Regions from separate parts of the Homo sapiens genome. Here regions 1, 2 and 4 are each linked to region 3. The links come from fine-mapping of genetic effects on gene expression. A gene starts in region 3. Each other region holds a variant in brackets. All regions are shown on one strand. Distances are between the middles of the regions.

Region 1 (7,376 bases), 81 kb after region 3:
GTGGGAAAACAGCACATCTTTTGGGACCCCTGAGGCTCTAATCAGGCATCTCAGAATTAAGAGTGCTCCAGGGTTGGGAAATGGCTACCCTGCTGTGGCGAAAACATGCCATTTCATAATAAACGTTGTTAAGAGAGAAAAAAGTGATAAGCATGTACCTGCAATGAGGAGATAGAACGACTTAGTCATTGCCAGGCCATTATATTCCTTAATTATTTCATCAGTCTATAAGTGACTTGATGATTAAGTCTTATTTTCAGATTTCCTCCAAAACAAGTCCACTGGAAGGGGATTAGGGGCTCCTACTCCTCCCTGAACTTTTCCTGCCAAAAATGGAGGCTCACAAAGAAAATGCAAATCTACCCCCACCTTAAAAAAGTAAAGGCAGTCAAAGTCAAAACCTTCACTGCTCCTCCTTCCTCCCCTACTACGTGGAAAAAAATTTTGACCTGTTACCAAAATAGATTCCTCAGGGTAAAGGGGAGAAAAGTTTTCTACAAATTTTTTCTAAGTGGTGTATTAGTTCCTTTTTTTGAGTAAGAAGTGAAAGGGAATAGGAACCCAACACAACTGCTAAACTTCGATCTCACAAGTTATTAAAAAACAGCAAAGGTCAAACTGCAAAGCGTTAGAAAAATGTGAAGACAAAAGGATTAAAAGAGTGGGACACTAAAGAAAAAAGTGTGTGTCCTTCACCAATAAAAGTCGTATCTTGTCCTCTACTTCCTCCTTCTGTAGGCAAATAAAGACAATTCTAAAGGACTAGCTTTCCTCATCATGCCAAATAATTAAAATTCCAAACAGATTATTAATCCTATTCTAACAATTAAAATAAATGATAAATCTGCCTTGTAACTACTGACAACTGTATTTTAAATAACTTACGGCCTCTTGAATTTAAATATAACCGATTAAAAATGGCAGCAACATCAGGGTTAAGAAACAAAATGAAACACTATTAGTCTCCAGAATATTGAACAAAACAATATCTAAAATAAATATGACTTCTCAGAAGGAAAAAAGTTATCTACCATTAAGGACATACCTTAAAAGTTCTTAGCACACATTAAGTAAGCACAAACTAGTGGCTTGCCTGTTATATTTTCAGACAAAAAGCAATGAGGTTATTCCTCTGCACTTGTCACTGCAGACACATAAAGGCTTTTAGAAACTACATCTATTACTCATTGTCTAAGTATCATAAAACTTAGCATTTTAAGTCTTGTTTGATATCAATCAAGAAAGAACATCCACTTCAGGGGAAAGAAGTACAGTAAAATAAGAACATTGTAAATGTCCCTCTTGACATATACAAAAGAGAAGGTAAAAGGCCTCCTAAGACCCCTACCTAGTGGCCAGGCCTGGACGGCAGCTGTTGCTACCTCACCTTTTCTTTTGTTGAGCTTAATCTCATGTCAAGTCATTCAACCAACTCAAAAGCGATGAAGACATTATTGAATCAATCTGAACTAAATCAGACCTAGGCTTCTTAAAACATACAGCTTAATGCTTCCAAACGATCTAGAAAACTAAGAAACCTAGCTACGCTGTAGGACACACTTTCATATGCGTCCGTGTGAAGAGACCACCAAACAGGCTTTGTGTGAGCAACATGGCTGTTTATTTCACCTGGGTGCAGGCGGGCTGAGTCCGAAAAGAGTCAGCAAAGGGAGATGGGGTGGGGCCATTTTATAGGATTTGGGAAGGTAATGGAAAATTACAGTCAAAGGGGGTTGTTCTCTGGTGGGCAGGGGTGGATCTCACAAAGTACATTCTCAAGGGTGGGGAGAATTACAAACAACCTTCTTAAGGGTTGGGGTCACGGCACCAAATTTCATACACGTCCGTGTGAAGAGACCACCAAACAAGCTTTGTGTGAGCAATGGCCTGGCCTGGGCTCAGAGGCCTGACACACACAGTGGCCAATTATACAGGACCCCCAAACTGGCCAGTGGACCACTGCAACCGCCATTTACTTTCTCCGCTGCAAGCACCATAGGCTGATTCAGGAAGATAAACTGAGGCTCAAGGAATTTCGAAGTGGAACAATACACCAAAGCCTTAAACCTGAAATGACTATCCTTTTCTGGGGGGTGGGGGGGAAAGAAAAAGAAAAAAAAGTTTCTGGGGCTCTCAGGGTGGCCCAGATGCCAGGGTCCCAGAAGTGGCCTTTTCTAGCTCCTGTAACTAAACCTGGCGGAAAACTCCCCGCCTGCTCACCCCATCCGCCCAAGAATGCGCCTTCCCGTCTTCGGTGGCCCTACCCAGAATCCCAAAATGTGGATTCCAACCCAGGCCCTGAACGTCTTCTCAAATCCCCGGGACTTACGTTGCGGCGCGCGCCCCGCTGTCGGGTCTTGCCCCTCGGGCGGTACCGCCCAGGCAGCCCTAAATCCAGCCTCCCAGGCCCCCAGCAGCGCCCTCCGCCCCTCCACCATCCCGTCCGGCTCGCAGTCGGGGCCAAATCGAGAGACAAGAGGGCTGTGCCTGAAACTGAGCGGTTTCACCACTTGGCACCTCCTGGCAGAAACTTCCCTTTAAAAAAAGAAAAGAAAAAAAAAAAAAGCAGCAGCACTTTTGGGCTAGCATTTCAATCCTTCCTGCCCTTTAGAGTTCCCAGTTCTGCTTCCAGCTGCCTTTGGGTGTTCCACTACAATTGAGTTGTAAAGATATTCTTTAAGTGTTTATAGAACATTAAGACTTAAGAAAAATCTTTAAAATTAGAGGAGGGAAAAAAAAGCCACCTTATCGCACACATCCAGGAAACGCAGCCCCGTGCATCCCTGCTCAGGGATAAGCAGGCGCCCCAGGACTCCCGGGGACAGATTTTTGGGCACCCGAGGGAGTCACCCGGCGCACCTCGGGGTCCGCGGAGAGGCCCAGCCCCTCCCGCGGTCCCTTAGACGCGCCCTCCGCCTGGCCCGTGTGGACCGTCCCGGCCATTGTTTACGGGGGAAGCCTGTCCCGACGCATTGTTTTGGCCATTTCCAACTTCCCCCGGCCCTTCCCGGGGTATCGCGGGGGACCCTACGCCAACGTCCCCCCTCCGCCCGCGCCCCAAGGGCCGACTGGGCAAATTGGGAGACCCGCCCCGCGGGGCGACCCAACTTTTCGGAACAGCCCCCCACCGCCCACCCCCGCAGACCCCCGGACCCCCGCTCCCGGCGGAGATTCAGGGAACCCCGCACCCCAAGCCCTTCTGAATCGTGCGGCGTGAGTGTGACGGCCAAGAGCGGATGCAGCCCGGGATCGCCCGCACCTTCCCGCCAGCGGAAGCGCAGGAGCCGGCTGGGGAGGGGGCGCCCTAGAAAGAGCAGCTAGAAAGCTGAGACGGGGAACTGAGGTCATCCTGGGGGGGGACAAGACAACGAGAGCCGGGCGCCTCGGGGGCGGCGCGGGAGCCTCCGCAGGACCAGGCGGGCGCCCCGGCTGGCGCGGGCGGGGGGCGCCCCCCTTTACCTGTGGCTCCGGCCCCTCGGCCATTTCCTCGCGCGGCGGCTGCCGGGACTGAGCTGACTCCACTCGGGCCGGCCGGGTTTGAAAGAGGAGGAGCGGGCGCGGAGGGGAGGGGGCGGGGAGGGCGGAGGGAGGGAGGCCTCGCGCAGTTTTCTCGGCCTTTTGTGCGGACACCTCCCGGATTCCGCGCCCGCACCCGGCCCCCCAAAAGACACGGGGAGCCGCAAGCGAGGGGTGCAGCCATCTGCCGAGGCGCCTAGTGCCTTCGCGCCTCCAAGACCCCCAACAAAAAAGGAGCGTCCCGCACCCCCACCCCCGCCCGGAGGATTTAGGGGCCGGGCTCACCTCGGGCGCGGGGCTAAGTGCAGGCGCGGGGGGGGTCCCTAGAGCCGCCAGGGCGCGGCGCGTCCGGCGCTGGGGGACTGTTGGGTCAGAAAGTGTTCAGGGAGCAGCTGCTGCGCCCTCCCTCGGCCCGCCGCTCGGAGACGCCCCGCCCCGCCCCACCCCGCCCCCGCGCCCACGTGACTAGCATAGGCCCGCCCCCGCTCCGCCCCCCGCCACAGACTCCGCCTCCGG[G/A]ACGCGAGCGAGCGGCGAGCGCGCGCACTCCCAGTTATCGCTCGGCGACTCCCGCGCACGCACGCGCCGTGCCACCCTCCCCGCGCCCCCCGCCCCATACCCCTACTCCCGCCATCCGATTTAACGTGGCGGGCGAGCGCCGCGGCGGTAGCCGTGACAGGTACCCGGCGGGGGGGGCGGGGGGGGCCGCGAGGGTGTGCGCAGGCGCAGACCCGGGTCCCGTCCCCGCCGCCCCCTCCTCTGCAAGGTGTGCCCGGGCGAGGGGAGGGGCCCGCGGCCCGAACTCCTGGGTCACCCCGAATTACAAACAAAACCTTAACGCCGTTGCTCGCGGGTTAGAAGGCAGCTGTGCGCGAAAAACACCTCAGATTTTCTTCAAGCGTGAGGAAGGTCGAGAAGATAAAGTTTTTAAATGAGTATCTTCAGAAAGCTATTTAATTGTTCTGATTTTTTTTTTTCTGAAAGGACTGGGCTTGCGCTATTCTAACTTGAGATTTCTAAACTTAGACTAGGTTCCAAGAATCTACTTGGTTTTGATAGAAATCCATTTGGAGGAAACCGGGGACAAAAAAAAACAAAAAACCGCTACCCTTTCCCCTCCTCCCTACGCACAACTCATTTAAATCGTTTCCCAACTGTTTTTTTTTTCTTACTGAAAAAAAGGACAAAAAAAATCCTGATTCCTAAGGCCTGTGATATTTCCCCATTTTAAGTAAGCCTCGAGGAACCACAGACATAACAAACATATCCACAATTTTTCTACCCCAAAATGCAAACTAATGCAAATGTGAAATGGATCTATGCAAGTCGCTACCAACAAAATAGCCAAATATTTGTTTTTTTACTGGCCTTCGGCATATCCAAAATGAAAAAACTTTAAAACACATCAAGAAAAGCATTTAAAATATCTATTTCCTAAATCAAAAGAAAGAACGCACTACAGAAACGATCCGGAGCTGGTGAGCAATGCAATCTTAATAAATAGGAAAAGGAATTTGAGAAGACAGCTCAGCAAAGGGGAAGAATTTGCCAAGTGTCATGTTTTGCTGTCATTTTATATATAACTACTAACCCCCCATATGGTCTGGTTAGTCTTTTTTAAAAAGGAAGCCAATCAATTACTCACAATTAATTAGCAGTGCCGGTAGATTCTTAGGCCAGCACTAAAAAACTAAATTGGGTGAATTTTTTTTCACTCAAGTCCACTGATATTGATCACTTTTAGTATTAGGAGTCCTTTTCTGACAAAAGATGAATACCTATCTTTAAAATATATTTTTTAATCTTATTGTCACATTCTAAAACACAGTCCAAAAACACTTCATAAACAAGAAACTTCATTTAACTTTATGAAAACAAATGACTATGAGCCTTGCTACACAACAAAGAAACTATGAACAAGTGCAACCAGGTTGAGCCTTTAAGTGTAGCCTCATTCTACATGTTAATGGATAACCTTTGAACTCTGAGAACTTGAATGCTGTAAACACAATAGCACTGACAGTTAAAAATTCCAGTGTCAAAATCGAGCAAAAAGAAAAGTCCAAACTTTTCAGGGGGAATAGGGAAACAATCAAATATTTTGACAAATAATCGTTTCAGTAAGAACAAGGAGATTCCTGGCTCTCAGACCTTGTTGCTACTGAATTATTTTCTGAGCAAAAACGGTTGTGCTTGTTTTCCCCCTGTGCCCTCCAAAGCTACCACTTTGTTCACATTATAGCATCATGATTTGTTACTGTTTCGCTGCCTCCCTCAAAAAAAAAAAAGTGCCTTATTATGTTGTAGCTTTTAAAATTGAAAGATGATTATATTCACTGATCTATCCGCTAAGAGTTTTATTTATATGTGATCCTCCTTATGTTTGAGCAAAGAATTACAAAGAACCTTGTCCTGGAGTCGTGCCAACGAAACTGGGAAATCGTTGCAAAATTCTGCCAGTGACTGACTGCTGGGTTGCAAATACATACTGTGTTTTCAGAAGAACATAGAGGGATCTGAATTCGTCCGGGAGGGCTTCCCTGAGACACATTCTTCCCTTAGAATGTGAGACTCATACCTCCCATTTATTTGGAAAGCATGTATAGTTCAAACAATTAAAATATGGAAACTCCAAAAGTAACAGGAGAACACTGCAAACATTTGGTTTTGTAATAAAAGCTAGAAACTCATAACTGCATGAAGTGAAAATTGAAAATCGAACGTTGGTCTTCCTATGCTTAGCTCCACCCACAAGAAATCCAGCTTTGCCATCACTCCCTTCCTAGGCCATCTCTAAAGGAGTCAGGTGCTACTAGATGCCAGCAAAAAAAACAAAGAATGGAACCAAAAGAGAAGCTCTGCACATGGTACTTGGAGAAGGGGCAGAAAAGCCCCACTTCACCTTGGTTCAATGCAGCAAACATCAGCTACACCTCATTTTTCACAATTGTCCAAACAGCTCAGGCAGAGCTGACGAGGAGGGTCAGCACCTTCTGCCACCTCCTGCTGCTGAGCTGTGCACCTGTCCCGCAGTTAACTTTCTCTGAGCTGAGTCAACCTGAGCCCACCTGTGGGGAGCCCAAAGCTTGGTGGAGACAGATGCCAGCTGGGGCCCTTTGTTGGGAGAAGCTAAAGGACCTGGTGACTGCATGTGGGGGCAAGAAAAGGAAGACTCCAAGGGTTTGCTCAGGACTCTGGCCCAGGAAATGGGGGACTGTGGGACTGGAAGGGGCCTGGTGGGGAGCAGCAGGGGGTGCTGAGCTTGTTTGGCACCCTCTGAGCTGGAGAAGTGTGTGGAGGCTGGGAGAGGGGCCCAGAGGGACTGGAGGTATAGACAAGACATGCTCCCAGCTTCCCTGGGTCGCAGGCCAGGCACTATTTGATAGATGAGATCATCGAGTTCCAGGGAGGAAGGAGAGCGGGCCATGTCACCAAGGTCACCCAGTGATGAGCATCCCTGCCGACAGGAGTCCAGCTATCCCAGTCCCTCCACAGTCCCTGGGACTTTGCTGCTGAGGGGCTCGGGCTCTCCGGGCGGGAGTCCCAAAGACAGGAACAGGGCAGACTTAGAGCCCACATGGAGGCTGATTCTTTGGGCGGCCTTGGGCAAGTCTCTTCACCTTTCTGAGGCTCAGTTGCCGCACCTGTGGGTGTGAAATGCCTCCTTCCATAAGGGTTGGAAGGATTAAACTAGAGTTTATTTTTATTTTTTATTTATTTATTTATTTTAATGTCATAGCGCTGGACCCAGCAGCAGGTATTTAGTAAGCCCGGCGGGTGGTGAGCATGTCCTCCCCTTCCCCTTCTGGCTGAAGCAGTTAGGAAGGCTGCCTGGAGGAGGCAGGCCTTGAAGGTAAGGGCTG
Region 2 (7,376 bases), 24 kb before region 3:
TTGACCTATGTCCAGGATTTCAAAACGCCCGAGGGGAACCTCCCAGGGCCCTCCATCCGCTTCCCAGGCAGACCTATCAGCCAGACAGCTTCCGTCTTGCCTCTGGGTTGAGACTGTGGCAATAATGGCTCTTCGGTTGACGAAAGGAAGTAAACTGTGTTGGGTAAATGCAGATGGACAGATTCTTTTCCAAGCTGGTGAGACCAAGGCAGGCGAGGCTGAGCGCTGCCCTTTTATCAAGGCTTGACTGAAGGACCTCATCCAGAGTCACTATCAGAGCTCGCTCCAGCACTCTCCTTCATGGAGCCCCAGGGTCAGCAGTGGAGAGGGTCAGAGCACCCCCACAACCCCCACAGCGAGATGACCTCGGCTCGTCTTGCCTCTGCCACCAGAGCTGTGACTGTGGGCAAGATATTTTACAGCAGGACCAGTTTCTTGTCCGAAGGCAGGGCTATTAACAGGACCTAACTCAGGATACTTGTGTGGATAAAATCATGTGTGAAGAGCTTTTAGGGCCTTGCTTCTCAAAGAGGGGCCCCAGGCCATCAGCACACCTGGAGTGTGCAGGGGGAAGCTCTCAGCCCCACCCCAGCCCTCTTTACAAGACCCCCGCGTGGCACCTGTGGCGTGGCACCTGTGTGCACTCGTGTTTTCAAAGCCCCCGGACATCCCAACCACAGCCCAAGTGTTCTGAAAGTGGCCCCAGCCACACCTGCCTTCAGGGCGAGGGCTTGTTCCTCACTGACTCCTGCTGCTCCCAGCAAGACCCACTTCCGGGTCTGCAGGGAGAGGCCCTAAGGGCACAGAGGTGGACAAAGGGCTGCCTGCATCACTTTATCTTTTCTACTTTATTACTTCAAATTAACAACCACGATAAAGCTCAAAAAAGTCCAATATTTACACAGGAAAAAAGTACAAAATTCCCCCCAAAGTTCTTCAGTTTTTTTTTTTTCAGTTTTTTAAATTACAAAGTAATAAAAAGCTTTGCTCTTTAATTAAAAAAAAAAAGGAAAAAGGGGAAACAGAGGTAAATAAATTAGGAAAACACACACACGGAGAAAACAAACAAAAATAAAATAAAATAAAAACAAAAAGGTGTTAACTAGGAAGGATGGGTTAATCCAAAACCCAGCCCTGACTCCAGGCTCCTCCTCAGAAAGGTGGAACCAGGGAGAGGGGGGACCCCAGGTGACTGTCAGGACCAGGGAAGTAATTTATAACTCAGAGCCAGATGCCTTCTGGAAGCAGTCTCCATGGATTCTGCCCTAAAACCAGGAATGGAAGATGGAGCTGCCACCGGCTGATGACGGGCTAGGGGGGGACCGGTGGCAGCGAGGACCCTCTGAGCTCTGAGGGATGCGGAGGTCACCGCCCACCCCCATGTCCTTGTTAGTAGACACAGGAGAACGGGAATTCGGGCTGGCAGGCGGGGCGGGCCGTGGCACCTGCTGTCTTGGGAAACACAGGTCAATACATCCACACACACACACACACACACACACGCAGGGGACGCCGGCCCCCACCACCTCCCCACCCACTCCATGGAGAGGCAGAGGAGGAGCCTGGAGGCCAGGGGGACAATGGAAAAGCCCAGCACGGGAAGTCAGCCACTGTCATCTCAGAGTGGGTGGGGCTGTGCGTATCTCCTGGATTCTGAGGCTCGGAAAACTCGGTGGGAACTGCCTTCAACTGACTACACCACTCCCTGATGATGCTTGAGGGCCGGCTTTGGCTCTGGGACCTGTCACTTCTCCGACACGGACCCGACCCGTTCCTCTCCAGGCAGGTGGTGGGTGGGGGCAGGAACAGGAGGCCGGGCAGGCCCTGGCGTCTGGCTCCTGTAGCCTGGTGTTGTCAGGGGAGCATCTGGCAGCCTGAAGGTTGGGGGCAGCGGGCACCACAAGGGGGCAAGAATCCTCAGTGCTGAGGGCATCTCATCTTCTTGCCATTGGCAAAGAAATCAAAGAAACAAACTCCATCGTCGGTTTTGTGCTGGGTTTTTTTGTTGTTCTTTTGAGTGGTTTATTTTTGCCTTTTTTTTTTTTTTTTTTTTTTTAAAGAAAATACAGTGAAGACACTAGAAGGGAGAAGGGAAAAGACAGGTGAGGTACACAGCTGTCTCTGGCTACTTTTTTTTTTTTTTGAGATGGAGTCTCGCTCTGTCCCCCAGGCTGGAGTGCAGTGGCACGATCTCGGCTCACTGCAACCTCCACCTCCCAGATTCAAGCAATTCTCCTGTCTCAGCGTCCCGAGTAGCTGAGATTACAGGTGTGTGCCACCACACCCGGCTAATTTTTGTGTTTTTAGTAGAGATGGGTTTTCACCATGTTGGCCAGGCTGGTCTCGAACTCCTGACCTCAAGTGACCCACCTGTCTGGGCCTCCCGAAGTGCTGGGATTACAGGTGCGAGCCACTGCACTTGGCCCCCCAAACTCCTGTCTTCTCGTCCCTTGGTCTATCTCCCTCTGGGCCCCAGAGCCTGGCTCAAGGCCCAGCACGCTAGGAGATCCATCTTCATGTGACAGAAACGGATTCTCTCCCTTCTCTGCCCTCCTGGTGAGCATCTCCCCACCCCACCCCCAAATATCTGCCCAGCCCGCCATGGACAGCTTGGTTCCTGGGCCTGAGATCCGAGGAAGGCCAGCCCTGTTCATGCCTCCACTCTCTTGTGTGGATGAATTTCTACAAAACAGACCACACACAGATTGTCCCAGTGTAAAGTTGAGTCCCCCGACGTGTCGGACTACTGCCTACAAATGGACACACGTTCCCCAGAGAGCTCAGATTATACCCTCGAGAAGCCCAAAGAACCCCTGCCGCCTCCCCTTCCCCAAGCCAGGCCCCAGAGTGGGGCGTTTCCATACCCCGCCTCAAGGCCTGGTACAGTCCGGGAAGAACCAGCAGGCTCACGCTGGCCAGAGGGCCTCTCTCAGTCCTACTACAGAGGCATAAAAAGGGCTCCTTTGCTTCCTCCACAGCCCTGTTGTGAGTCTTGTGCAGGAATTAACTTGCGTAACAGCCCAGAGGCTGAGACAGGGCTAATGCCGTGGGAGAGGTCAGAGTGTGAGCCCATGGCCCCGTCTCTGCTGGGAACCAACCTTCCAAAATATGTTAAGGCAGAAGGAGATAGAGACCTGGCCGAGGGCAGAAAAAGTTTTTCCAGCAGAAACTAATCCATGAGGGGTCAGGCCTGAGCATAGAAACCCTTGGCCCCAAGTCAGGCAGCCTCCGAGGTTTTAAACTACTTGAGGCCCCTTAGAGTTCTGGGGCGCCTGGTACCATCTGCCACTGCCACTGCCACCCACCCCTCCACAACACATTGGTCTCTTTCTGGGGCCCTGGGAGCTTCTAGGTCGGCTGGGCTGGCTGCATCTGCAGCAGTCATGGACTCACCTAAGCAAACACTGGTCCAATGGGGGCTCTCCTCACTTCCCGAGATGGTCAAATGGCACACTTGTCTTTTGAGGGTGGGGAGGGAGAGAGGGGGAGGGAGAGAGAGGGAGGTACAAGCTTCAAGTCAAGTCCCTTAGCCGCTGGCGATAGAGATTTGGCAAGTCTCTCCCCACTGAGGAGGTGTACCCCCACCCCCACCTCCAGGCAGCCCCTCAAGCTGAGGGAAGGCCTGTGTGATTCCAGTGACTCTAAGATGTCCCTGTCTGTAGCTAAGAATGTTGCCCAGGGAGGCAAACCTGCTACCTAAGTAGATGGCCAATGAGGGTTCTCTCGCAGGACTCCCTCCTCGCCCACAGGCAGGAGGACGAGGGCAGGGCTCCCACCCACCTCTGCCAGGCCACCTGCCCTGGGCAACTACAGATTCCCCCTTCCCAAGTGTCCCCATCCAAACATAGCCCCAAAGAGGATGGGACCTCACTGCCCCTACACCCCATGCTCTTGCCAATGCTCACAGGGGCTCCTGGGGGCTCCCTGATGTCAGGGAGCAGCAACACCTCATCTCTGAGCCCCTGCTGCCCACCCTGGCTGGGCCCCTGGCAGCGAGGACTGGAGCCCAGCTGTGCCACTTGCCAGGGAATGTTACTGCCCTGAGCCTTGGTGAATGACTTTGCTCAAGAGGGCTCATCAGACCTCAGAGGATTAAATGAGGCCAAGTCCTGGCTC[T/A]ACAGAAGGGGTTCACTCCAAGGCAAGCAGCGTCGATGGAAAGGGAAGAACAGAGCCACGGCCTGACCTCCCACTGGGGGGTCTCTAACTCAGTTCTGAGGCCCAGAGGGACTGGCAGGGGGGCAGCTCACCTGTGAGGCTGGGATCCGGGAGACCTCTTGCCGCCCAGTGAGGTCTGAGGAGGAGACGTTGGCGGGCGCACCCCTGTGCAGCCTCATACTCACCTTCCTCTCCCGGTCGACCCGCGAGATCGCTCTGGGAGAAGTATTGCCTGGAGGGAGAGTGGGAAGCCACCCTCAGAGTAGGCACAAACAGAGCCCCCCACCCACCCTGAACCCAGCCCACTGCCTGAGTCCCTGCTCACCAGCCGGCTGGATGCGGGAGGCTGGCGTGGAAGCCACGGGCTCGGCGGCACTGCGGAGCCGGTTGGCAGTGGCCCCCGTGGGTGGGCCAGGGGGCAGGGCTCGGGTCGCGGACCCCCGTAGCTGCCCCATCCTCTCCTCGCGTTCGTGTTCTCGCCGCTCCCGGTCCACATCCTCGGGATTCCGGGCTGCACCCTGCAGGGATGCAAGAAAAGACACCAGTCAGCCCCAGAGGCCAGGGTGCTCTGGGCCCAGCAGCCCTGCAGGGCACAGAAGGGGAGGGAGGCCAGGTGGATATCTCAGAAACCTTCTGCTCCAGCCTCCCTGACAAGCGCGGGAAGCCAAGACCCACAATCACACAGCACAGAGACACGAAGCCACACAACCACCAGAGGAAGGAGAAAGCAGGAGTCTGGGGGCAGAGGGAGGTCAGTCTGCCCTGCTCTCCTGGGATGGAGCCAGAGAAAGGACAACTAATGCGCCCAGGATGATCAAGAGCACCTCTTGGCCCTCCTGACCTGGGGCTGGGCCTGCCCTGGCCCCCCTCTGTGTACCAAGAGCCCTTAACTACTCAAGGTTGCTAAACCGAGCAGGAAAGCTGTTTAGAGGCCTCTAGCAGACTGGCTAGGGGTGTCCAGAGGGGGAAAAGAACAGGCCCAGAGTCACAAAACTAGTGGAAGGCTGGGCTAGGACTCAGACCAGCTCTCCCGGTACCTAGCCAGGGGCTCTTCTCATCAGGGAGCTGTCCTTCCCCCTGCCGGGACCTGGCAATGGCTTCTGGCAGGTGCAGTGGAGGCCACAGCCAGGAGGCCCAGGGAACCCACAGACACCGCCTGCCTTGGGACAGAAGCTCAAGGGGAGCTGGAGAAGAAAATGGGGCCACGTTCCCCACGGAGGAAGAAGAGGCCCAGCAGGCAAAGCTGGAGCAGAAGGGGTACCCTAAGCCCCCAGGTGCCCTGCTGTCCAGCCACTGCCGCCCCTGGTGCAGGAGGAAGTGAGAAGGGGCCAGAGAAGAGCATATGTGGGGGCAGCGCCCGACTGCGTTACCTAGTTCATCCTGGGGCCGTCCACAGGGAAGGGCAGGGGGCTGGCAGGAAGGGGGCCGCATCTGTGGAGGAGAGAGCTCTGGGCTGAGTTGGGGGCCTGCTCATGGGCACAGGGTGTGGTTCCTGCAACCCATGTCTCTCCCAGGAGACTGGCCAAGAGGTGGGGGTGGGCCCTGTCTTTAAGCAACTCCAGGAAGTAGTGGCTAGGACCAGAATGATCCCTGAATCTTAGTGAGGCACCAAGGCCCAGAGAGGCCTTGTGACCTGCCCGGGGTTGCACAGCTCAGGGCAGAGCTAGGGTCTGAACCCAGGCCTCTGCCACCTAGTCCCACTCTGCTCTCTGCACCCCAAGAGGTCACTGTTCAGAGTCTTGCCTTAGAACACTCTAGAAGATGCATCTTCCCATCCTCCCACCCAGAAGCCTCTCAGGCAGGCCTGGGACCACCGGGGCTCTAACTCCTGACCTCCGGTCCTCACCCTGGGCTCCCACTCGGTTGCAGGCTGGCCAACAGTGACTCAGCCAGAGCCACAGCAAAGCCTGGGGAGGAACACGAGCTGTGGCACCTCCGTGCCGAACCTTCTGCGGGCAGAGTCACATCAACCCTGTGAGGCAGGTCAATCTCATTTCCATGCTTGGGATACAGAGGCTGAGTGACTCACTCCAAGGTGTGGAGCCCTGCAGCCAGCAGCCAAGCAGAGGGCTGGAGCCCCTGCCCTTTGTGAGCCCAGCAGGCTCAGGCCATTGCCAGCCCCGAGGCAAGAAGTGGGCGACTCTCCATGGTCCCATCCAACCCATAGGACGCAAGAAACACACAGCAGGGAGCTCTCTTGGCCTTTATTGCCCATAGAAAACATAAAAGGTCAGCAAAGTCACACGAGCATCCACCCGTCATCATATGGACCTCTGTCCTTGGCTGTGTTGAATTCCTTCCCGGCCAGCTGACTGGACCTCGGAACACAGTGGCTGTATGTGCTGAGAGTGGCTTCCAGGCCCCAGGGATCCACAGATCCCAGCACCCCGGTGCAGCCAACAACACAGGGTGTCCTGTCTACTGTTGGGTAGCATGGGAAGGGCCTGGCCTCAGGGTGAAGGTTCCCATTGCATGTTTTCCAGGTGCTTCTGCCAGGGGACTGCTGGAGGTGGTTCAGCTCACTACAGTGGCCGTGGCATTGAGTCAGAGATTGGCAAAGGATAAGGCTGTGGGTGCCTCTGCCCAGCTTCTAACTCCAGGGCCTGCCTCAAGAGGGACTTCCAGGAAGGCGGTCAGACCAGCAGCAGTGGGTGGAGAGGTGCTCCTGGCCTGGTTGGAAAAGAGATCTTGCTGGCTAGACAGTCTTGTGAGACTCCATAAGGGAGGAACCTAGAGCAGTGATGTCCACAGAACGTTCTGGATGAAGGAAATGGTCCCATCTGCCTTGCCGGATGTGGTGGCCACTGGAGGGCAGTGGCATGATCTCAGCTCACTCCAATCTCTGCCTCCTGGGTTCAAGCGATTCTCCTGCCTCAGCCTCCCAAGCAGCTGGGATTACAGGAACACACCACCATGCCCAGCTAATTTTTGTGTTTTTAGTAGAAATGGGTTTCACCATGTTGGCCAGGCTGGTCTTAAACTCCTGACCTCAAGTCATCCGCCCTCTATGGCCTCCCAAAGTGCTGGGATTACAGGCATGAGCCACCAGGCCTGGCCGACATTTCCAGTCTTGATTAATTTTAATTCATTAAAAATGTGTCGCATGTGGCCAATGGCTACCATCTTGGACAGTGTCCGTCTAGAGAATACAAAATCCATTCTTGCAGTTGTGCTGAGCTGGAGGGCCAAGCCCATCACGAACCAGACGTGGGAGTGACTAT
Region 3 (7,010 bases):
CTGGCCTGGTCTTCCCAAGTACTGCCCCTGCCCAGAGGCCAGACCTCGCCAGTGCCCAGCACGCCTTGCAGGAGAAAGTCGCATCCCCTACTGGGGGGAAGGCAGAAAAGAATGCCCTCGACCATCCACCTTCCAGCCACCTCCCCATCTCTACGTCATGACACCAAGACCTCACACGGAGGCCCATAGCCGCTTGGATAAACTGTTTGGAGCTGGCGTCCTTTAAGACTAGGAGGGTCTCCTAAGAGGGCCCTCATAGAACAACAAAGGGGACTGAGCCAGGGTTTTAGCCGCCTGCCCCGGATGGGTGGGAGGAGGAGTTCTGATGTGAGCAGCTTCTCTCCTTCCTCAGGGCCAGGGGGGAGCCCTCTGCTCTGGCCTGGGGCAGAGGAGGGACCCCTCTGCTCTGGCCTGGGGCAAAAGTCCGGACACCCTGTTCCTGGTCAGCAGAGGAGGAAACTGAAGGCCTGGAGGCAGTGCTGCCGTGGGGACAGGGACCAGGGACTGCAGTAAACAGGGGGAGGGGTGTTTACAAGAGGACCAGCATCAAGGACTAGCAAGAGGGAACTCCTTTCACAGACAGGGTACTCAGGCTCACAGAGGCCATGCCACCTGTCCCACACCACCCTGCAGATGGTACAGCCTCGCCGAGGACAGGGCTCCGGCTGTCCCACCTGGTGGTCTCCCACACTCACAAACAGGGCAAAACAGGAAGACTGCAGAGCAGCTGTGCTGGCACAGAAGATCAGCCCCTTGCCCGTGCCAAGTGCTGCCCCCAACAACCAGGCCAGCCTGGGAGGGAGATGGATTCCAGGGACAGTGGGCAGATCCCAGGAGAGACAGGGAACCCCGGCACCTGGCTCCCAAGGAGCTCACCAGCCCTCCACCAATAACCACGAGGCAGGGACCTCCACCAGAGCTGGCCAAACTCTGGGCTCTCAATCAAGGGCCGCTGCCCATATGCTTGGCCTGTCTCAGCTGAGGTGCCACGCTGCCAGGGGAACACAGTCCACGTTTGCAGGAAACCCACACGCCACACATCCCACGTACACACACGTCCAGCTTCCCGAGTGTGTACACTCCAACGGAAGAAAGAAAAGCAGGCACACACAGTGAGCCCTGTTGGGGGGTAAGGGGGGGTGTGCACGCAACCCCCCCCCAACACCTCAGTCCACTTTCTGCCAACACCAATTCAGAGACCACACATGGCAGCCAGGAAACCCGCAGGTTAGGAAAGGAACATAAATATACCCGCATCCTATATTACATAAATACCCACGCCGGGTTATATAAATACCCGTGCCCTCTGTCTGGGTGTCTTACATAAATATACTGCACATGACCCCCCAGTCTCTCCCCACTCACCGGCTGTCTGCAGAGAACGAGAGCGGGAAGGGGCAAGCCCTTCAGGACCCCCTGACTGCTATGTGCCAGCCACCCAGACCCCCAGTCGCTCCCCAACACCCCAGGGGTCCAAGGTCCCTGGGGGAGCCTAGACTGTCCCGGCACCAATACCCAAAAAGCCTCCCAGAGGAGAGCAGAAAAGCTTCATTCAGGAATGGAGAGGCTTTTCAGTTCTTTTGCTGCTTCTCCCATGGGGGAGGGGGGGAGATAAACAAAGTGGGGGGAAAAGTGGATATAAAGGTTCAAGAGTTTCAGCAGGTTAAAAAAATTAGACAAACTACCAACCAGCATGGCACACGGGCAGTGCTTCTTACTCCCCGAACACCATCGCCTACCCCTGAGCCGGGGCCCTTGTCCCTCGGACGATTAAAATAAAAATTGAAGGGACATCATAGAAACGAAGGCAAAGGAGACCCAAACACAGGCATTGCTTGGAAGCAACTTGAGACACTTGTGTCCCCTTCTCCTCTCTCCAAATCCTTCTCCAGGAAGGAGGCTATGCCAGGAAGAAAATATGCAAGAAAACTAAGGGAAAAGTTGGGGAGGGGGCTCACCCCACTTCGAGTTAGGGTATTAACAAGAGCTTGGGAATCCTCTAACGACACCCAGACACTGTTTTGCGTTCCTTAGAGACTTGCAAGACATCAATCTCTCACACAAAAATGGGAGAATCCGATCCGACAAATAACCCCCACCCCTTTCTTTCTCTCCACAAAGAAAAACAAATCAGTGGCCTGGTGACCACACACCTCTTCACCTTAGGACCCCCAAACGCCCGTCATCCAACGAGCGGGCGCAGCCTTGCGAACCCCCAGGTCCGGGCGCCGGGGCCGGGAGAGCAGGGGGCGCCGGTGATTGTCCGATGAAACGCTACGCGGGCCCGAATCAACAGTATCCGGCGCCCAGCACCCCAAGCCCCCTCCCTCAGCGTCCCCAAATCACAGCCGGGGTGGCCGCCTGGCCGGCCGGGGCCTCGGAGGGCCCAGCGGGGGGAAGCGGAGGCAGGCCGGCCGGGGGGCCTCCCCCGCGAGCCTGCAAAATAACAGGCCCCCTCCTCCTCGTCCCCAGCCGCGCCTTTGTCCTCGCCGGGCCGAGCGGGCGGCGCCCGGGCTGCCCCCCCTACACCCCAGCGCGAACGCGCGTGTGTCTGCCCTCCCTTCCCTCCCTCTCCAGCAAAAACAAAGAGGCTGAGGGAGCCCGATTCCCCCCAGGTTTGCACCCTTCCGCGGGCCCGCGGCCCCCCGATATTTACCCCGCCGGGAAGGCGCCGATGCCGGGCCACTGCTCGGGGGGCTGCCGCGGGCGGGGGCGGCCCGCCGGGGCGGATGCCGGAGGATTCGCGGAGCCGCCCGGCGCGCCAGCCTCTCCCGGCCCAGCCGCCGCCGCCGCCGCCGCCGCCGCGCTCCGCTCGGCCCCGGCCGGGCTCTGGCTCTGGGCTCTCGCCGCCGCCGCCGCCGCCGCCGCCGCCTCCCTCCTCCCGGCCTCCTGCCCGCCCGCCCGCCCCCGCCGCCGGCTCGCGCGCTCTCGCACCGCGCGCGCCCGCCGGCTCCCATTGAGCCCCGGGCCCGCCCGCTGATGTCATCCCCGGCCCGCCGCCGCCGCCCCGGAGGATTTAAAGGGCCCGCGCCCTCCGCGCTGGGGGCCGCAGCTGCGAGACGCAGTTCCCCAGCCTCAGTGCAGGCGCGCGGGCTTACGCGTGGGGGTGGGGGAGCACACAGATACTGACACCCTAATGCAGTCCAGGGCACAGGTGGAAAAGACGGGGTGCGGGGGGGACAGAGGGAAGAGGAGGGCGCACAAAAAGCGGAGGTGAGGGGATGGGAGGGGAGGGTCTAGACCCAAAGTCTCCTCTCCCCGCCTGCCAGGATCTCTCTCCTCTCCAGGCAGAGCACTGGGCCCCTGCGAAAACAGGCGGCTATTCACGACACTGCAAAAGATGTTAGACTGCTGGAGGCTCAGTCCGCCTCCAGGTTCCGAGTGCCGCAGAGAACACAGGCCAGGTTGATTCAGGGCAAGAGATTTGAGGAGACAGCTAGGGATGTCGACACAAGGCCCAGAAAGGTAGCCTGGGCTCATACATTCTCCTCCCGTGGAAAAACGAAGGGCAAAGACCTCTTCTTCTTTTCCCTGAAGCTCAAACTGTGATGGGCACAGAGAGGACCCCTCAGATCCCAACCTCATTCTCCCCTGTTGAAGGAGGGGTGCCACAAGTACCAAAGCACCGACACTTGAGTCTGGGCTCCGAGTGGTGCACGTTTAGCCAAGCCACCTCCCAGCTCTGAGCTTGGGTTTCCTTAAACAGCAAATGGGAGGAAGGACCCTGTCCTCCCCAGGTCACAGAATTAATAAAAGCTTCTACCGGCATGCAGAGCCGCGATGAAAGGTTGCAGAACAAAGTCATTAAAGTGATGATATTTACACTGAGCCATGCAAAGCTTCCAATTATGACACACCTATATTCACACAGTTGTGACTGTGGACACGCAAAATGCCTGAGGCCCTGCGTCCAATCCCGGAAGCACAGTTCCTGGGAGGAGTCACTTCTATAATAGCCGTATCTTCCCTCCTCGAGGCTGAGGGACTGAGTCACACACGTGTCCAAACGGGCAGGAGCCCCACAGACTAAGTCCTTTCGCCGGCCAGGAAACTGGCCCAGAGAGGGGAAGGGCTTTGCCCAGGACCACAAAGCCCAACAGGACAGCTCTGTTCTCCCAGCGATCACCAGGAAACTGGGTCTATCTAGAGCCCATTTCCAAGAGCAGGAGAGTGAGAAGCCTCCTCCCAGGAGGGCCTGCCTTCAGTGACACCTTTGCCAGAGCAGGGGGTCACCAGCCAGGTGGTGGGCTTTACTTGGCCTGCGCGGTGCTTTCTGTTGTTGTTTTGTTAATTAATCCCCAAAGTTTTTTTTTTTTTTTTTGCTTTTTGTTTTTGTTGGTTTTGAGATAGAGTCTCGCTGTGTGGCTCAGGCTGGAGTGCAGTGGCTCAATATCGGCTCACTGCAACCTCTGCCTCCTGGGTTCAAGTGATTCTCCAGCCTCAGCCTCCCTCCTGAATAGCTGGAATTACAGATGTGCACCACCACACCTGGCTAATTTTTGCCCAGGACCACACAGTATTTTTAGTAGAGACGGGGTTGGCCAGGCTGGGCTGGAACTCCTGACCTCAAGTGATCCGCCTGCCTCGGCCTCCCAAACTGCTGGGATTATAGGCGTGAGCCACCATGCCTGGCCACTCCCCAAAGTTTTAAAACTGGAAGATTTCATATTTCAGATCCAGATTCCCTGTTTCTCTGGGGGCATTAGGAGATCCGGTAACTCTGGGCCCAAGTTCTCAGCCGGCCTGAGCGCCACCCCACCGCCACCCATTTTGTTTCTTTCCTCACATGAGCCCAGGCAGAGAGGCCTGGGCACAATTGAGCAGGGGGTGAAGTCTGCCCCTGTGTCCTCCAGTCCTTACCACCCCTAACCTTCCAACCTGGGCCCTGCTTCCCAAAGCCCTCCTCTTCTTCAGCACTTTCAAGGCAACCAGCCCTGGGAGAGGAGGTTATTTGTTATCTCATTTAATCCTCTCAAACAACAACAGATTACACTGTATTCTTTCAGAGAAGGAATCAGGCTCCTCCCAGTGCTTGCCTAAGGGCACAGATCAACCTCTCCCTTAAACTGGGCCTGGCTGGAACAGACCCCCTGCCCCTTCCTAACCCAGCCAGATCGCCAGGTCTGACTGCAGCACGTTCACGTTCTCCCCTCTGCATTCAGGACTTGTAACCACACCTCCCACCCCAGCACCCCCACCCCACCCCCTGCCCCAGTTAAGATCCTGCTCAGTTCCCTGGGCCAGCCAGGCTGAGGAGCCCGGCTCATCCCCAGGCCTGCTAGGGAGCCTCCCTGCCTTGCCATTGGAAGGACATGCTGTTGTCCACTGCCTGAGTTGTGGGCCCAAGTCCTTGTCCTTCCTATCCCTGGAAGACCTGTGTGTGGGCCCTTCCAAAGAGCTTTGCAGTGAAGCTATAAGGGAAGGCAAACCATGACACAAAACCCAGCTGAGGAGGGGAGACTGGTCCAAAGTGAAAAACAAAACCTTACGTGTTCCAGCAGCCCCACAGCCTGACTTCTCTCTCCGACTTGGTTCACAGTGATTCCTCTCAGATTTAACTCCTAACTTTAAAACCCAACGGTGGGGCCGGGCACGCCCCTGTAATCCCAGCACTTCAGAGGCCAAGGCGGGTGATCACCTGAGGTCAGGAGTTCAAGACCAGCCTGGCCAACACGGTGAAACCCCGTTTCTACTAAAAATACAAAAAATTAGCTGGGCACGATGGCGGGCACCTGTAATCCCAGCCACTCGGGAGGCTGAGGCAGGAGAATCACTTGAACCCAGGAGGCGGAGGTTGCAGTGAGCCGAGATCGTACCATTGCACTCTAGCTTGGGCGACAGAGCGAGACTCCGTCTCAAAAAAATAAATAAAAAACAAAACAAAACAAAAAACCCAAGGGTGTGGCAAAGTTCCCCTAGCTACCTTCTCTGCAAGCCAACAAGAAGATGAAATCAGGCTAGAATAGGTGTGGGGTGAATTGCCAGCTCCCAAGGGGCCCACCCTGGGTTTCAGCTGCTCTGCATTGGTTCAGGAATAGTGGCTCTCACAACACCTTTCCAAACTGGCTTTTGTCTTTTTTTTAGAGGCTCATTCTGTCACCCAGGCTGGAGTGCAGTGGCAGGATCATACCTCGCTGTAGCCTCAAATTCCTGGGCTCAAGCGATCCTCCTGCCTCAGCCTTCCAAGTAGCTGGGACTACAGGCATGCACCACCACACCCAGCTAATTTTTAAATTTTTTATAGAGATGGGGTCTTACTGTGTTGCCCAGACTGGTCTGAAACTCCTGGGCTCAAGTGACCCTTCTGCCTCGCCCTCCCAAAGTGCTGTGATTACAAGTGTGAGCCACTGTGTTCCCAAACTGACATTTTTTACCTGCTCCCTATTTCAGACCCTTCAAGATCACTTGGCACGCAGGAGCACTGGGCTGGGATCCCAAGGACAGCCCTGGAATTCCCAGATAATGACGATATGGCTGCAGATAAACCCAGAAAGATTTCAGTACCTGCCCCAGGAATCTCAGTCTTGACTAAGGACTCATAGATTTACTAAACATCAAGGGCTGGCCTGAAAACGGCCCTCCAGGATCTGTCCTCCACTCCCCGCACCTGGCTCTCCTGACCTCAGCTCCTGTAAGTTTTCTTCTTGCTCACAGCCCTGTAGCCTCACTGGCCTCCCATGGAATGAACCTCTGGCCTCAGGGCCTTGGCAGGGGCTGTTTCCACTGCCTGGTGCGCTCTTCCCGCAGAGCACCAACCCCCCTCACCTCTCACCTTTCTCAAGTCCCCTTCAGAGGTAGGCCCTCCTGGTCTCCCAGTTTATTTATTTATTTATTTTTTGAGACAGAGTCTGGCTCTGTCTCCCAGGCTGGAATGCAGTGGCCCGATCTCGGCTCACTGCAACCTCCGCCTCCCGGGTTCAAGCAATTCTCCTGCCTCAGCCTCCAGAGTAGCTGGGATTACAGGCGTCCACCACCATACCTGGCTAATTTTTGTATTTTTAGTAGAGATG
Region 4 (7,376 bases), 41 kb after region 3:
ACATATTCAATCCAGCGGGGATATTCTGAGCCCCGCCATGTGCTGGTGCCTGTACCTGCTATATCTCCTCTTTGGTGGGGAGACAAGCCCCCAGCCCAGGCAGGGTCCCCACCAGGCTGGACATAGACCCATTCTGGGTGAATGTGAGGGGAAGAAATTGAGCGTGCCCGGTGGTGGCGGAGCCAGGAACAGGAAGGCCTGGAGCCAGCCTGCGCTCCGCCCATCCAGCAGAGTCTCCACTTGGTGTGGATTTGAAAGTGATCTAACACGTCGTCCTCTCTTGTCACCCAGGCTGGAGGGCAATGGTGCGAACTCGGCTCACTGTAACCACTGCCTCCCAAGTTTAAGCGATTCTCCTGTCTCAGCCTCCCAAGTAGCTGGGATTACAGGCGCCTGCCACTATGCCCAGCTGACTTTTGTATTTTTAGTAGAGACGGGGTTTCACCATGTTGGCCAGGCTGGTCTTGAACTGCTGACCTCAGGTGATCCACCCACCTCGGCCTCCCAAAGTGCTGGGATTATAGGCGTGAACCACCGTGCCTAGCTCCTGACTCTGAATTTATATGCTCCTGATAAGCCATCATTTTCTTACACTTATTCACACATGAGTGCTTAACAATAGAAAAAATGACATACCATTAGTACAGTTAAAAAAAAAAAGTGTTCAGAGAAACTAAGCAGCACAGCAGCGGCATCAGAATCCCTGTGTCAGCTGTTGAACAGTGGAAACACACAGCGGCAGGCGTTCAGTCTCCTGGGATGCTGTGTTTTCATTAAAAGTTTACTGTACACCACATTTTATTTTTTCTTAGGCAAGAAGAAACATCAGAAGCAGCTGAGGGACCAGGAAGCGGGTCCGTTAAGGCTAAGGAGACATTCTGCCGGCCGGCTTTTAAAAATGTTTCCTATGGGCCTGGCGCGGTGGCTCACACCTGTCATCCCAGCACTTTGGGAGGCAGAGGCGGGCGGATCACTAGGTTAAGAGATTGAGAACATCCTGACCAACATGGTGAAACCCCGTCTCTACTAAAAATACAAAAATTAGCCGGGCGTGGTGATGCATGCCTGTAGTCCCAGCTACTCGGGAGGCTGAGGCAGGAGAATCGCTTGAACCTGGGACTCAGAGGTTGCAGTGAGCTGAGATCATACCACTGCACTCCAGCCTGGGCGACTGAGCTGCACTCTGTCTCAAAAAAAAAAAAAAAAAAAAAAAGTTCCCTATGGAGTCATCTGCCTTATTAACAATGGTTTTTGTCTTAGATGACTCCCTGACCTCATCTTCATGTTGTATACCTGCATTTTCACTGCAAACCTGTCACAGAAGGTCGGGTGTGGAATTTTCCACTTTTGGCATCATGTTGGCACTCAAAAAATTTCACATTTTGGAGCATTTCAGAATTTTTGGATTAAGGGTGCTCAGCCTGTAGTCAGATATAGTTGCATAGAGTGAAGGCATTATCCAAATAGATTTTTCAGTGATTGTGCTTTTTAAAAAGCAGACACATTTACATAACAATGAAGAAGTGGAAATCCTTTGCATCTTTAACCAGTCTCTTACTCTCATTCTCCTTCCCTCTTTTATAATCTTCCGTTTCAACTTAGGAAACTTATATTTCTCTATGCCAACTTTGTGAAACCATGCAGAATGGCTGTATCCAAAATTGCATGACAACAAAAAATTGTGAAAATGTCTGTCAAATCCAGTTGTTTAATTCTTTTAAAACTATGAGTATGAAATTATTGTTATTCTACCACTTACTGTTTTGAAAAGAGTTCAAGGTTTTAGCTAGGTTATTTAATTGATGTTAAATCTGAGGGAGTTCCAAAAATGTGAAGAAAAAAAGAACACATAATTGTCCGAAGATTTAAGATCCTGAAATGTGATTCAGTAAACATAGTCATCTGTAGTTTCAACTTGGAAATTAAAAATGAGAAGATAACTCTTATCCTGTTTTGAGGAAAAAAAAAAGCCTATATTTAAAGGTTAATCTACATGTTCACAGAGTAATTAAGATTGTATTAAAATGTCTTTGTTTCTATTTAAAGTTTGTTATTCTATAACACAGTAGTTGCTTTTTTCTATAAGATCTTCAAGGCTGAGGACCCAGGCTCATGCCTGTAATCCCAGCACTTTGGGAGGCCAAGGCGGGCAGATCACTTGAGGTCAGGAGTTCAAGACCAGCCTGGCCGACACAGTGAAACCCCATCTCTACTAAAAATACAAAAAATTAGCTGGGCGTGGTGGTTCATGCCTGTAATCCCAGATACTTGGGAGGCTGAGGCAGGAGAATCACTTGAACCTGGTAGCTGGAGGTTGCAGTGAGCCGAGATTGTGCCATTACACTCCAGCCTGGGCTACAGGAGCAAAACTCAGTCTCAAAAGAAAAAAAAACCTTCAAGATAACAGTTTAATTTTAAAACAGTTGTTTAATGAAAAAAGGAAGGTTAGGGACTAGAGAATTTTTGAAACAATAATTATGATAGGAATATCAGTAACAAAATGTTTCTGAAGCTATAAATGTAAGCTAAAAATATAAACATCATTGACTAAATCCAGTCTTTGATTAGAACTAGTTTTTTCTCTATTAAGGCTCTTATTTTCTACTAGCACTAACTTGTACTCAACCCTTAGTACATATTCTCTCACTTTTTAGTAACCATTGTTATGATAAATTGAAAAGCCATTCAAATAAAATTTTGTGTGAATTAATCTGTTTGCCAGAGTGAAAAGAGTAGTAACAATAGGTAAACAGAACACTTGTGGCTCTAAGTCAGGGACTTAAAGTGGTGCGCTTAGCGGATAACGCTTCTGGTCACCTACAGTTTGTTTCTGAAAACTGAAAGGAGTTTCAGTGGTGATAGCTGGGATCACAGGCGACCGCCACCATGACCGACGAATTTTTTGTATTTTTAGTAGAGACGCGGTTTCACCATATTGGCCAGGCTGGTCTTGAACTCCTGACCTCCAGTAAACCACCCGCCTCTGCCTCCCAAAGTGCTGGGATTATAGGAGT[G/T]AGACACCACTTCCAGCCTACATGTGTCTTTATGGGAGAAGAGTGTTTCCTGTAGGCAACAGAGCAATGGGTCTTTTTATTTTATTTTATTTATTTATTTATTTATTTATTTTTGAGCTGGAGTCTTGCTCTGTCACCAGACTGGAGTGCAGTGGCACCATCTCGGCTCACTGCAACCTCTGCCTCCCGGGTTCAAGTGATTCTCCTGCCTCAGCCTCCTGAGTAGCTGGGACTACAGGTGCGCACCACCACACCCTGCTAATTTTTGTATTTTTAGTAGAGACAGGGTTTCACCATGTTTGCCAGGATGGTCTCTAGCTCTTGACCTCATGATCTGCCTGCCTTGGCCTCCCAAACTGCTGGGATTACAGGCGTGAGCCACCACACCTGGATGGGTCTTGTTCTTTCATCCATTCATCCACTCTATCTTTTGATTGAAAAGTTTAGTCTACTGACACTCAATGTTATTATTGATAAGTAAGGACTTACTCCTGCCATTTTGTTATTTGTTTTCTGGTTGTTTTGGGGTCTTCTCTTCCTTCTTTCATTCCTGTCTTTCATTAGTGAAGGTAATTTTCTCTGGTGATATGATTTAGTTTCTTGTTTTTTATTTTTCGTGTATCCATTGTTATGTTTTTTGGTTTGAGGTTACCATGAGGCTTGTAAATACTATCTTATAATCCATTATTTTAATCTTATAAGTTTTCATAAACAAGTAAAAAGAAAACTAATAAAAACTCTACAACTTAACTTTGTCTCCCTATTTTTTAACTTTTTGTTATTTCTATCTTATTATACCATCTATGTCTTGAAAAGTTGTAGTTAATATTTTTGATTGGCTCATAGTTTAGTCTACTTAGAGTAAGAGTAGTTTATACATCATAGTTACAGTGTTATAACATTCTGCATTTTTCTGTATACCTACTATTACCAGTGAGTTTTATACCTTCAGGTTGTTACTTATTGCTCATTAATGTCCTTATCTTTCTGATTGAAATACTCCCTTTAGCATTTCTTCTAGGACAGGTCTGGTGTTGACAAAATCCCTCAGCTTTTGTGTGGAAAAGTGTTTATTTCCCCTTCACTTTGAAGGATATTTTCACTGGATACACTGTTCTAGGGTAAATGTTTTTTTCCTTCAGCACTTTCAATATGTCATGCCACTCTCTCCTGGCCTGAAACGTTTCTACTAAAGAGTCTGCTGCCAGATATATTGTAGCTCCATTGTATATTATTGGTTTCTTTTCTCTTGCTGCTTTTAAGATCCTTTCTTTATCCTTGATCTTTGGGACTGTGATTATTAAATCCCTTGAGGTAGTCTTCTTTGAGTTACATCTGCTCGGTGTTTTATAACTTTCTTGTACTTGGATATTGATATCTTTCTGTAGGTTTGGGACGTTCCGTTACTATCCCTTTGAATACACTTTCTACACTCCCCACCTCCTCTTTAAGGCCAATACCACTTAGATTTGTCCTTTTGAGGCTATTTTCTAGATCCTGTAGGCATGCGTCATTGTTTTTTATTCTTTCCTTTGTCTCCTCTATGTATTTTGAAATAGCCTGTCTTCAAGCTCATTAATTCTTTCTTCTGGTTTATCAATTCTGCTATTAAAAGACTCTAATGCATTCTTTGGCATGCCAATTACATTTTTTGGCTCCAGAATTTCTGCTTGATTCTTTTAAATTATTTCCATCTCTTTGTTAAACTTATCTAATAGAATTATGAATTCCTTCCCTGTGTTATCTTGAATTTCTTTGAGTTTCCTCAACACAGCTATTTTGATTTCTTTGTCTGAAAGGTCACATATCTCTGTTTCTACAGGATTGGCCCCTGGTGTCTTATTTAGTTCATTTGGTGAGGTCATGTTTTCCTGGATAGTGTTGATGCTAGCAGATGTTCTTTGGTGTCTGGGCATTGAAGAGTTAGGTATTGATTGTAGTTTTCACTGTATTTATTGTAGTTTTCACTGTCAGGGCTTGTTTGTACCCATCTTTCTTGGGAAGGCTTTCCAGATACTTGAAAGAACTTGGATACTGTGATCTAATCTCTATCTGCTTTAGGGGGCACCCCAAGCCTCCTAAACTCTGGTTCTTGCAGACTCATAGCGGTACTGCCTTAATGGTCTTGGACAAGATCCAGGATAATTCTCTGCATTACCAAAAAGAGACTCTTGTTTTCTTCCCTTACTTTCTCCCAAACAAACAGAGTCTCTCTCTCTGTTCTGAGGCACCTAAAGCTTGGGGTTGAGTGACATAAGCACCTCTGTGGCCACCACTACTGTGACTGCATTGGGTCAGACCTGAGGCCAGCACAGCACGGGGTCTTGCCCAAGACCTGCTGTAACCACTCCTTAGCTATTGCATGAGTTTGCTGAAGGCCCTGGGGCTCTACAGTCATCACATGGTAAAAACAGCCAGGCCTGTGTCCTTCCCTTCAGGATGGCAAGTTCTCCTAGCCTCCAGGTGGATCCAAAGGTGCTGTCTGGGAATCAGGGCCTAGATCAAAAACTGTAAAAGTCTACGTAGTGTTTTATTGTGCTATGGCTGAGCTGTCACTCAAACCACAAGATGCAGTCCCTCCCACTATTTCCACCCCTGTCCAAAGACAGAGGAGCATCAATCCAGGGCCACCTCAAACACAGGCCATGGGGAGGTACTGCCAGACTACCACCAATGTTCTCATAAGGCCCAAAGGCTCTTAAGTCAGTTTGCAGTGAATGCTCCTGTTAATTATTTTTAAATGCTTTTTTTTTTTTTTCTTTTGAGACGGAGTCTCACCCTGTCACCCAGGCTAGAGTGCAATGGCATGATCTCGGCTCAATGCAACTTCTGCCTCCCAGGTTCAAATGATTCTCCTGCCTCAGCCTCCCAAGCAGCTGGGATTACAGGCAACCACCACCACACCCAGCTAATTTTTGTATTTTTAGTAGAGACGGGGTTTCACCATGTTGGCCAGGATTGTCTCGAACTCCTGACCTTGGGATCCTCCCACCTCAGCCTCCCAAAGTGGTTCTTATTATAAAAATAATCAAACTTACCCTTCTACAAATACTCGAAGAAGAACATCCATGAGAAAAAATAAGGCAATAGCTAGAGAAATAGAACGATACTCCAAAGGAATATAAAGTTTGCTGTCAGTGAAAATTAGGTCGGCAAGGACGAGAGTGACATCCAGTAAGACGAGGAAAACTCCAAATAGTCTAAAATAAATAAATAAATAAATAAATAAATAAATAAATAAATAAATAAATAAATGCAAAGATAAAGGGGCATTTGTCCCTATAGCTATACTATATTTAAGCCACTGATCAGGTACCAAAATGTTATTATTTAGTATTAAGCTGCCCAGTGGCAGGAAAAACTGTAATGCCTTAGAATCTCAGAAAAATCACTGTTTTCACCCAATAGAAGCAGTTCTTAATAAACAAAATTCTCACCAAACCACTTCAGAAGATATTATCATGGCCTTTTATAGTAGACACATCAGACCAACACCTCAAGAGAGAAAAAGTAAAACTGAATTAAAATCACCTGTGTCTGTTTACAAACTCTTCTTAAAATGTGAGAATTTCATAAGAAGTTTATACCAACTTCTCATAAAAAATAAACCCTCATTAATCTGGATAATTCTAAAGAATTTATTAATAAAAACCAAATGAAAGCATGAGTAACATAAGCTCTTAAAAGACCAAGATTTTTCATCAGTGACATTTTCAACAAGTCCATGATTTCATCTTTATGGGTGCTTCGAGCAGAGTGATGGGCACATGAGTCTTGAACTCTAAAGTACCTCCTGCCACTTGCTGTTACATATTCCAAATACATTCTCCATAAATTGATTCGACTATTTGCCTAATCTATGAAGGTGAATTAGTCTTTGAAGTACTTTTTTAAAAACTTGCAGCTCAAATTCAAATATTATTAATTCAAAAGGAAACAATTATATTGCATAAATCTATATCATATAGTATGAAATCTTACTCTTATGTAGTCTAAATAAATAGTTTCCAGAATTAAAGAGTAATTCCAGATGTATAAGGTACTAATAAAACACTTTACTAATAATTACAGAATTTTAACATTTGATTTTCATTAATGTTACTTTTGCAGATGGAAGAAAAACAATATGTTACTATTAATCTTAGGCAAAAGCCATTTATTTGCAATTCTTAATGTCCAGCTTAAACCAAAATTCCATGATAAATTAGATTACATTAGATGGGGCACATGGCTACTTAGCAACTGATGGACAGTGGAAATGCTTTTTTGTTATTTTATTTCAGTGTTTCTCATTGAAGTATTAAGTCTCATATATATATATATGTATGTATAGATATATATGAGACTCATTTTTTTTTTTTT

Which allele goes with the higher level. Alleles are on the strand shown, and positions count from the first base shown. SD is a standard deviation of normalised expression in the study named. Not every link is listed here.
As copies of T replace A in region 2, the expression in fibroblasts of the gene that starts at base 2,930 in region 3 goes up (small effect, 0.21 SD a copy in GTEx).

Evidence for each region. PIP is the estimated chance that this variant, and not a neighbour inherited with it, causes the effect.
Region 1: its variant is fine-mapped to the expression of CSNK1E in whole blood (TOPMed, PIP above 0.99).
Region 2: its variant is fine-mapped to the expression of CSNK1E in fibroblasts (GTEx, PIP above 0.99).
Region 4: its variant is fine-mapped to the expression of CSNK1E in whole blood (TOPMed, PIP above 0.99).

The regions. Positions count from the first base shown.
Region 1 is chr22:38,394,979-38,402,354 of GRCh38, forward strand. It overlaps TPTEP2-CSNK1E (TPTEP2-CSNK1E readthrough), which reads right to left and starts at 3,937. Exons shown (of 15, transcript NM_001289912.2): 1 at 3,460-3,937. It also overlaps the pseudogene TPTEP2. RefSeq lists an enhancer at 2,666-3,449 and a silencer at 3,715-3,994. The variant G/A (reference allele first, on the strand shown) is at 4,033.
Region 2 is chr22:38,289,862-38,297,237 of GRCh38, forward strand. It overlaps TPTEP2-CSNK1E (TPTEP2-CSNK1E readthrough), which reads right to left. Exons shown (of 15, transcript NM_001289912.2): 12 at 4,481-4,673; 13 at 4,248-4,387; 14 at 3,394-3,458; 15 at 830-2,077. The coding sequence ends at 3,426. CSNK1E (casein kinase 1 epsilon) reads right to left here. Exons shown (of 11, transcript NM_152221.3): 8 at 4,481-4,673; 9 at 4,248-4,387; 10 at 3,394-3,458; 11 at 830-2,077. The coding sequence ends at 3,426. Among named protein-coding and RNA genes, the nearest start is that of TMEM184B, 21 kb to the left of the region's middle. RefSeq lists enhancers at 1-103, 104-811. The variant T/A (reference allele first, on the strand shown) is at 4,117.
Region 3 is chr22:38,314,504-38,321,513 of GRCh38, forward strand. CSNK1E (casein kinase 1 epsilon) reads right to left here and starts at 2,930. Exons shown (of 11, transcript NM_152221.3): 1 at 2,657-2,930. The region is part of intron 5 of TPTEP2-CSNK1E (TPTEP2-CSNK1E readthrough); the gene reads right to left. RefSeq lists enhancers at 199-258, 329-498, 519-568, 4,370-5,274 and a silencer at 2,258-2,647.
Region 4 is chr22:38,355,347-38,362,722 of GRCh38, forward strand. It overlaps TPTEP2-CSNK1E (TPTEP2-CSNK1E readthrough), which reads right to left. Exons shown (of 15, transcript NM_001289912.2): 4 at 6,053-6,214. It also overlaps the pseudogene TPTEP2. Among named protein-coding and RNA genes, the nearest start is that of TPTEP2-CSNK1E, 40 kb to the right of the region's middle. The variant G/T (reference allele first, on the strand shown) is at 3,015.